Homo sapiens: one gene and its partner. The protein of the gene in region 2 interacts with the protein of the main gene of each other region in a pairwise test. Each region holds a gene or a part of one and is shown on either strand. Other genes may lie near its edges.

Region 1 (3,754 bases), on a different chromosome or scaffold from region 2:
GAGTTCAGCTGTAATGTAAACTGTGAGTTGCTGGTTAACAGAATGCAAGATCGTCAACGACAAGGATTTGGGATTTTGTCTGTTTTGTTCAGATACTGGCATGAAATGGGGGCCTTTGCACACAGAAGGCACTCAGTGAACATAAGAATTGGCTGGAGGGTTACAGACTAAATACTATTAGACTGTTCTGAATTCTTTACTTCTCAGTGGGTTGGTAGCTCAGAGTAAATAAAAGCAGAAAGCCTCCCAAAGCTCAACAAAATCTCCTATATAATCTTAACATTTGGAGTGCTTTGAATTAATTATGTTCCCCCACCCCCACTTTTGTTTTTTTTGAGACGGAGTCTCACTTTTGCCCAGGCTGGAATGCAGTGGCGCGATTTCAGCTGGGTTGAACCTCCACCTCCTGGGTTCAAGCGATTCTCCTGTCTCAGCCTCCTGAGTAGCTAGGATTACAGGCACATGCCGCCACACCCAGCTAATTTTCTGTATTTTAGTAGAGATGGGGTTTCACCGTGCTGCCAGGCTGGTCTCGAACTCCTGAGCTCAGACAATCCGCCCACCTCGGCCTCCCAAAGTGCTAGGATTATAGGCGTGAGCCACCAGGCCCAGTCATGTCCTCTTTTTAAGGGACTAAGAAAGGCCACCTGTGTTCAACAGAAAATGCCATTTCCCCACCTCAGAGATAAATGCTTTAGTCAGAACAAGGAAAAGGAAAAACACTGCCCAAATAGGTTAAACACCCATGCTGACACTTCTAGATTCTCCTACTCATAAGAACATCCAGTAACCAGCCCTTTTCAATGCGAGGAGTGCTCTTGATACCTACAATCAAGAAAATAAAATGCGATTAGATTTAAAAATGAGTTGACATTACTCTCAGGCTTAAAAGCGCTTCGCAAGCCTTCAAACTCTTACAAATTACTCTACATATTATTGATCAGAACTGCTTCTTCTCTGGCAAACAACACTTATTCATTTGTTTTATTTTCTTGTATATTATACGTTTGAATCTACCTGATAACATAACTGCATTTTAAAAGTTTTCTATAAAAGACAAGGTTTTTTCCTATTTCTAGCACACAAATGTACTTTTCATTCACAACTGATTCTGAAGTGAAGGCCATTCTACGTAGACAATAATCACAGCAATCCTAGAGACAAGTCTTATCCTCCCTATATCACTACCAGTAATTGGTACCATCTCTAAGAGAAAGACAAGTTCCTTAATAGTCAATACATGGCTTCCAAAGTTTGTCTGTCTCCTCTAAGTATGAGATCGGATTTAACTGGATCTTCTTTTGTTCACAAGGATGCAAAACAATTTTCCAAGAAGTGTTATGTTTCTAAACTTTAAGATTTTTAATTTTCAAGAAATGAATCAATTTAAAGCTAAAAAATAGAATACTGATGATACTTAAACATTCTCCAAGAGAAAAGTTTGAATCCATTTTATATTTACAAGTTAATATTAAACTGTGTGATAAATCAAAAGTTTTAAATTAGTAAAGTGTGTTTTAAATGTTATAAACCATGTCAAATGTATAATATATGAACTAACAAATTAAAATACTACAATTGATTAAGCTACAAGGTTCTTGAGGTTAAACAAGTTATTACAAAGAGTATTATTATTTTTGTTTCGAGACAGGGTCTCACTCTTTCGCCCAATCTGGAGTGCAGTGGCGTGATCTTGGCTTACTACAACCTTCACCTCTCGGGTACAAGCAATTCTCCACCACAGCCTCCGGGGTAGCTGGGACTACAGGCATGTGCCACCACACCCGGCTAATTTTTGTATTTTTTGGTAAAGACAGGGTTTCATCATGTTGGCCAGGCTAGTCTCGAACTCCTGACCTCAAGTGATTCACCAACCTCGGGCTCCCAAAGTACTGGGATTACAGGCATGAGCCACTGTGCCCGGCCATGAAGAGTATTATTATAAAAGGTATATGTTATGCCAAGCAATAACAAGATATTGTAGATGTGATTAGTTATAGTAAAACAAAAAGAAAAAAATGTATTTAAGCACTCTTCTGTGTCATGGTTTACCATTAATTCAGAAGTAAAGTGTTTATGGTTGTTATTAAAGTTAAACCAAAGGGGAGAAATAAAGCACCCTGTAATTTGAAGGAAAACTACGAAGTATGAGATCTCGAGGGGCAAAAAAGAAATGAAAAAAGAAAACTAAAAAGAAAAAAAGTATATAAGTTATTGTACAGTATTTATGTTTCCTAGGATGTTATATGTTACTAAAAACTAAATCTCAAAATCTTTAAATACTCTGAGAAATAAATACACTATATAGATTACACTTTTGGAAAATTTTGTAACATCATCAAGAATTTAGTAAAGGGTTCTTTTCACCATAACGCTGATTCCAGTATCTGGTCTGTTAGTCTTTTTTGGCCGGCCAGTACACCTGGCTAAATTCTGTATTTTTAGTAGGGACTGGGTTTTACCACGTTGGCCAGGCCAGGCTGTTCTCAAGTGATCTGCCTGCCTTGGCTTCCCAAAGTGCTGGGATTATGGGCGTGAGCCACCACGCCTGGCCACGCTTGTTAGTCTTCTAGGTAGTCTTTAAGAAAAGGAATATGGATGGAAATGTTCAAAAGTGTCAATCATCTCAAATCAAATGGACACAAAGAGATTAAGTCACATCAGAATTTTTTAAAAAATAGAGGCGTGGTTTCACTCTGTCATCCAGGCTGGAGCAAACTGGTGCAATCACAGCTCGCTGCAGCTTTGACCTCCCTGGCTCAAGCGATCCTCCCACCTCAGCCTCCCAAGCAGCTAACTACAGGTGCACACACCACCAAGCCCAGCTAACTTTATTTTTTGTAGAGACAGGGTCTTGCTATGTTGCCCAGGCTGGTCTCAAACAATCCATCTGCCTCAGCCTCCCAAAATGTTGGGACAGGAGTGAGCCACTGTGCCCGGCCTAGAAACATTTTACTTGTAAAGATTCTAAAATGGCTTTAGCATACTTAAATTAATCCAAAAGATGAAAACCCATTTTTTTAACTCAATGTATTGATGTAAGTAAACACCAACAAAAACAAAGAAAAAATACACATTATGAAGCTCATGTACCTTTTTCTTCACCTGTTCTTGTTAGATCAGCCACTAGAAGCTGATGATCAGTTCTGTCATTCTGCAAATTTTATGACAGCCAACTACAAACTACAAAAATTAAATAGTTCCCAAAACTCTATTTCACCATCAATGTTTGAGTATAGCATAGTGAAATGTCAGTACACTTAACCATCAATTCTGCTAATATACGATACATTTTACAATAAAACTTTAAAGCTGCTAATATAATAGCAGTATTCCATTTCATTCCAATTCTGAAATTAATTCAGCAAGGGAAAAACAAAAAGAAATCAGGTACAGTGTGAAGAATAACTGAAAATTCAGGAATATCATACTCCTGAAAATTATCTTACCATAATCATGATTTCACATTTTATGCTATTACTTGAATAAATTTTGCTATTATAATTTTGGATTAAACAAACTTTTATTATTCTGATGCCACCAGTTATTTGTTTGCTAATTTTTACTAAAATCAGTGAATTGTGAAAGGCATATTTCACAGAAAATATAAAATACTGTATGTTGCATTTTTAAAAGCGAGAGTTAGAATTATACTACTTAACTACTTTCTATGCTAGGTAATGTCACAAAATACTTTAAAATAGTTACATATAAAAATATTCATGAAATACAGCTTTTTTTTTTTTTTTTTTTT
Region 2 (3,754 bases):
TGAGTGTTTGAATGAATGTGAGATTTCACAAAGCTTCCTTTTCCTCTAAGAGCAACCTTCAATAAATTACTTTAATGTAAATTCCAGAGCACAGAGATCATGTCTCATGCTTTTTTATGGTCCTGCTCCCAACCTCCATGCTGAGCTTAATCCTTTGTCAAGAGAGGAGCTCAATAAAACTTTTGGCGAGAAAAATAGTTATTCAAGGGACAAATATAATTTCATTGGTGCTACCTACCTGTGATCTGATTTTCTATTTCCCCTTGCATGTGCAAAGACTCCATATAGACGGTGCGGTTGCCAATAAATCTTGCACATGCAATCCCTCTGTATGGCTGACAGAATCCATCTTCTTCATACTCATCTCTGAAAGAAAGCATAGACAGACATTAGCTGATGCACCACATACATACAGGGCACAGCAAGCTCTGACTGCGCGATACCCTAAATAGTCACTAGGGGGCACAGTTGGGCACAATATACAAAAGACTGGGCTAAGGAATTGGGCTTTTGCTCAGTTCTTAAAACATCTGTTGGTCACATTGGTCAAGTTTCCTACACCCCCAGAAAGTCATCCTGAAGCACAAAATCATCCTTAAATATGGGAGAAAATGCTTTTATTTTCGCAGCTGGTGGTGGGCTGGAAGATGATGTAGTTATAGGAGTAAAGAGGAAATGAGTTGGAAATCTGGGCACATGTTCTACAGTTTTTTGTTTTTTAAGCACAGATTATTTCTGCTTCATTTGCTACAAAGGCGTGGGCGAACAGATCCACTCCAACTGACACGTCAATTAGGGGGATCCATGGGGTGAGAAGCTGGGTGCAGCTGGAAAGAAACCCGAGGGTAGCCCAGTTAGGTGACTCTTCACTGCTGAACCTCCATTATCTCTACCCTGCCCAAAGAGGACCAGGGCAAACCATAGTCTGGAGAGTTTGAATTGAGTCACTAAATCCAAGGAAATCTAGAGAAAATGTCCATGGAAAGTTTGCTTTCATGCTTCTCTACAATTTAAAAAAATAGTCTTATTAAAATTTTGCGGCCTCAAAATTATAAGACTTTTTTTATAAGGAGGGGTAATAGATTTCATCTTGAAGACAGAGGGACACCAGAAATGACATGATTCATGTGCCAGGTAAAAGGACTGGAGATCTAAGGCTGGAGATGAAGACCCAAGATGGCAGGCTCAACCTGAAAGGGCAGAGGCTACCATCTCCCACGAGGGCCTACGATGAGCACAAGATCCCTCGAGTGCAGAACATCCAGCTGTTTCTCAAAGGCAGACCATAGCCAAACCAAAGTCTGCCTGCCACGTGTATAAGTTGACTTCAACCCTGGATGCTCCTCCTCAATATATCATCTCAAAAAAAAAAAAAAAAATACACCGTTTTTCCCCTTTGGTTTCTTCTAAGTAAAAATCCCTCAGAGCAAAGTCAGGAGAACAAAATTCTCTTCCTGAGTTTAACATTTGGGCATCCTTAGGCAAGCTGTCTGAGCCCTCTGAGCCACAATTTTCTCATCTACAAGTTGGACACAGTAACTGACTTCTCTGCCCTACATGGGAAAGTCATTATGATCCCATCAGATAATGTAAAAGCTTTTTTAAATTGTAGAGATAATATATGGCTATTCTTAAAGTATTTACAATGACCAAAGGGACATTTATTTAAAAGACAGTTATTTACTAAGCTCCCACATCGTAAGAGGCACTGCGGTTAGTGCTGTGGTGCTCACTTCCCAGCTTGAAGGTCTAGCGTAGGAGTCTAGAAAGTCAAAGTATAGGAGCAAACCAAGTGGAAAAATCACCTGATAGGACACTAATTTTCTGCTTCTCTCTACTCCCATTCATTAAAAGAATCATTTTAAAGGTGAAAGTGGGGGAAGTATCTTCAGTTTAGTACTGAAAATAGTTTGTGTTGCAAAGCTCTTAAAAACTTAACCTTTAAATACACATACAAATGAATATATCATATACCTGACATAAAGACATTGAAATTTTACTGTTGCACAATCCTGCAAGCACTCCACATGTTTACTTTCATAAATCCTAGAGTAATGCTGAAGCCTTTTTGGCTTAAATTTTACTTGGGTTGTAAAATTAACCCAACTTTTATTGGGTAACTAATACCATAAACCTATGGGGAGAAAGAAGGTTCTTGATGACCCACACTTGGATCTTGGAAACCTAAGTACAGAGACCAGAATACACCCCCATGCCACCCCCCTGCTATTACAGATGATGCTTTTCTATCCCTAGGCATTAGCAGAGCCCTGGATTTTTAAGGTGTCATTATGAGAACACTTCTTTCTCCCCCACATTAAACTCTCAAGGCTTCAATTTATATCTCTTGGGAGGACAAAACCCTGGAATTACCCCCAGATATAAATCCCCAACCTACTGGGAGTTCCCATATTTTATGTGTGAGGCTTAGGCTAAACTTCTTACCACCTTTCCAGTTCAAGACTCTTAAAAAGACTCTTTGAATACTTTTTTTCAGAATAAAATGGAATGCAATTCCTTGGCTGCACATTTCTTATCAAAGGCTTAGAACTGCAGGTGTATTAAATTTTTGACTATTCCCAGAATTCCTACTATCCTGTTCAGTCTCCTGGGAGACAGATTTTTTAAAAAAGAACACAAAAAAACCCCAAAACCAGTATGTACTGTTATCTGCTGGGGAGTGGTTCTGTCTTGGCTCCTTATGAGAATCGCCTTGGCAGCACACTGGGAGGCCGAGACGGGTGGATCATCTGAGGTCAGGAGTTCAAGACCAGCCTAGTCAACATGGTGAAACCCCATCTCTACTAAAAATACAAAAATTAGTTGGGTGTGGTGGCAGGTGCCTGTAATCCCAGCTAGTCAGGGGGCTGAGGTAGGAGAATCACTTGAACCCAGGAGGTGGAGGTTGCAGTGAGCCAAGATCATGCCACTTCACTCCAGCCTGGGTGACAGAGTGAGACTCCATCTCAAAAAAAAAAAAAAAAAAGAATGAAAGAATCTCCTTGAGAAGCTTTAGGAAATACGAATGCCCAGGCCCCACCTTAGACCTATTAAATCATAGTCTCTGGGGATGAGGCTTAGGTATCTATGCTTAAAGAAACCTATCAGGTGATTTGAATGTGGTTGAGAACCACAACACTGAAAAAAACCAAACATGTATTAAGTGTCTGCTGCTCTGGGCTGGGTACTGTGTTAGGTGCTTTCTTCAAAGCAGCCCCTGATGAGCTATTATCCTTATTTTACGAGAGAGAAACTCAAATTCAGAGAAGTTAAGTAACTTGCTCAAATTCACAAAGTCAGTCTGTGGTGGAGCTAGGATTTAAACTGAAACTCAAGATGAGGCCACTATCCCATGTTGTTAGATCTGTAACTATGTTCTGCGTTTCAATACTACTCTTAGTTAAATCAGCCTACTCGAGAAAGAGACCTTATAACGAGTCTTGATTCTGTATCAGATACTGCTAAGTTTTATATACTTACAAAACAGATACTAAGTCATTTTATCCCAACAACAATCTTATAAAAAAAGGTAAAGATGTAATTATTCCTGTTCTACAGATGAGAAAAGTGAGACTCAGAAAGCATAGAGAACTTATCCAAAGTTACGCAGCAAGTAGAAGAGCTAGATTTGCTCTAAATAGTGTTTCTAACCACACTCTATAACTTCTTTCCAAGTGGCTTGGCAATGGAGTTTTTGCACTGCTTAGAGGGGCTTTCTGCTGTGGAGAAGCTTTGGTGCATTCTGGGTGGTAAA

Evidence for each region. Proteins that work in one complex are often made in the same cells at the same time.
Region 1: the proteins of ROR1 (region 2) and PPM1B interact in a two-hybrid assay, tested with the Homo sapiens proteins (one study listed by BioGRID and IntAct).

Annotation. Positions count from the first base shown.
Region 1 is NC_000002.12:44,171,833-44,175,586, reverse strand, and holds part of PPM1B (protein phosphatase 1B), read right to left. Parts: intron 1-3,754.
Region 2 is NC_000001.11:64,133,981-64,137,734, reverse strand, and holds part of ROR1 (inactive tyrosine-protein kinase transmembrane receptor ROR1 isoform 1 precursor), read right to left. Parts: intron 367-3,754; coding exon 239-366; intron 1-238. UniProt on the Homo sapiens protein: Has very low kinase activity in vitro and is unlikely to function as a tyrosine kinase in vivo. Receptor for ligand WNT5A which activate downstream NFkB signaling pathway and may result in the inhibition of WNT3A-mediated signaling.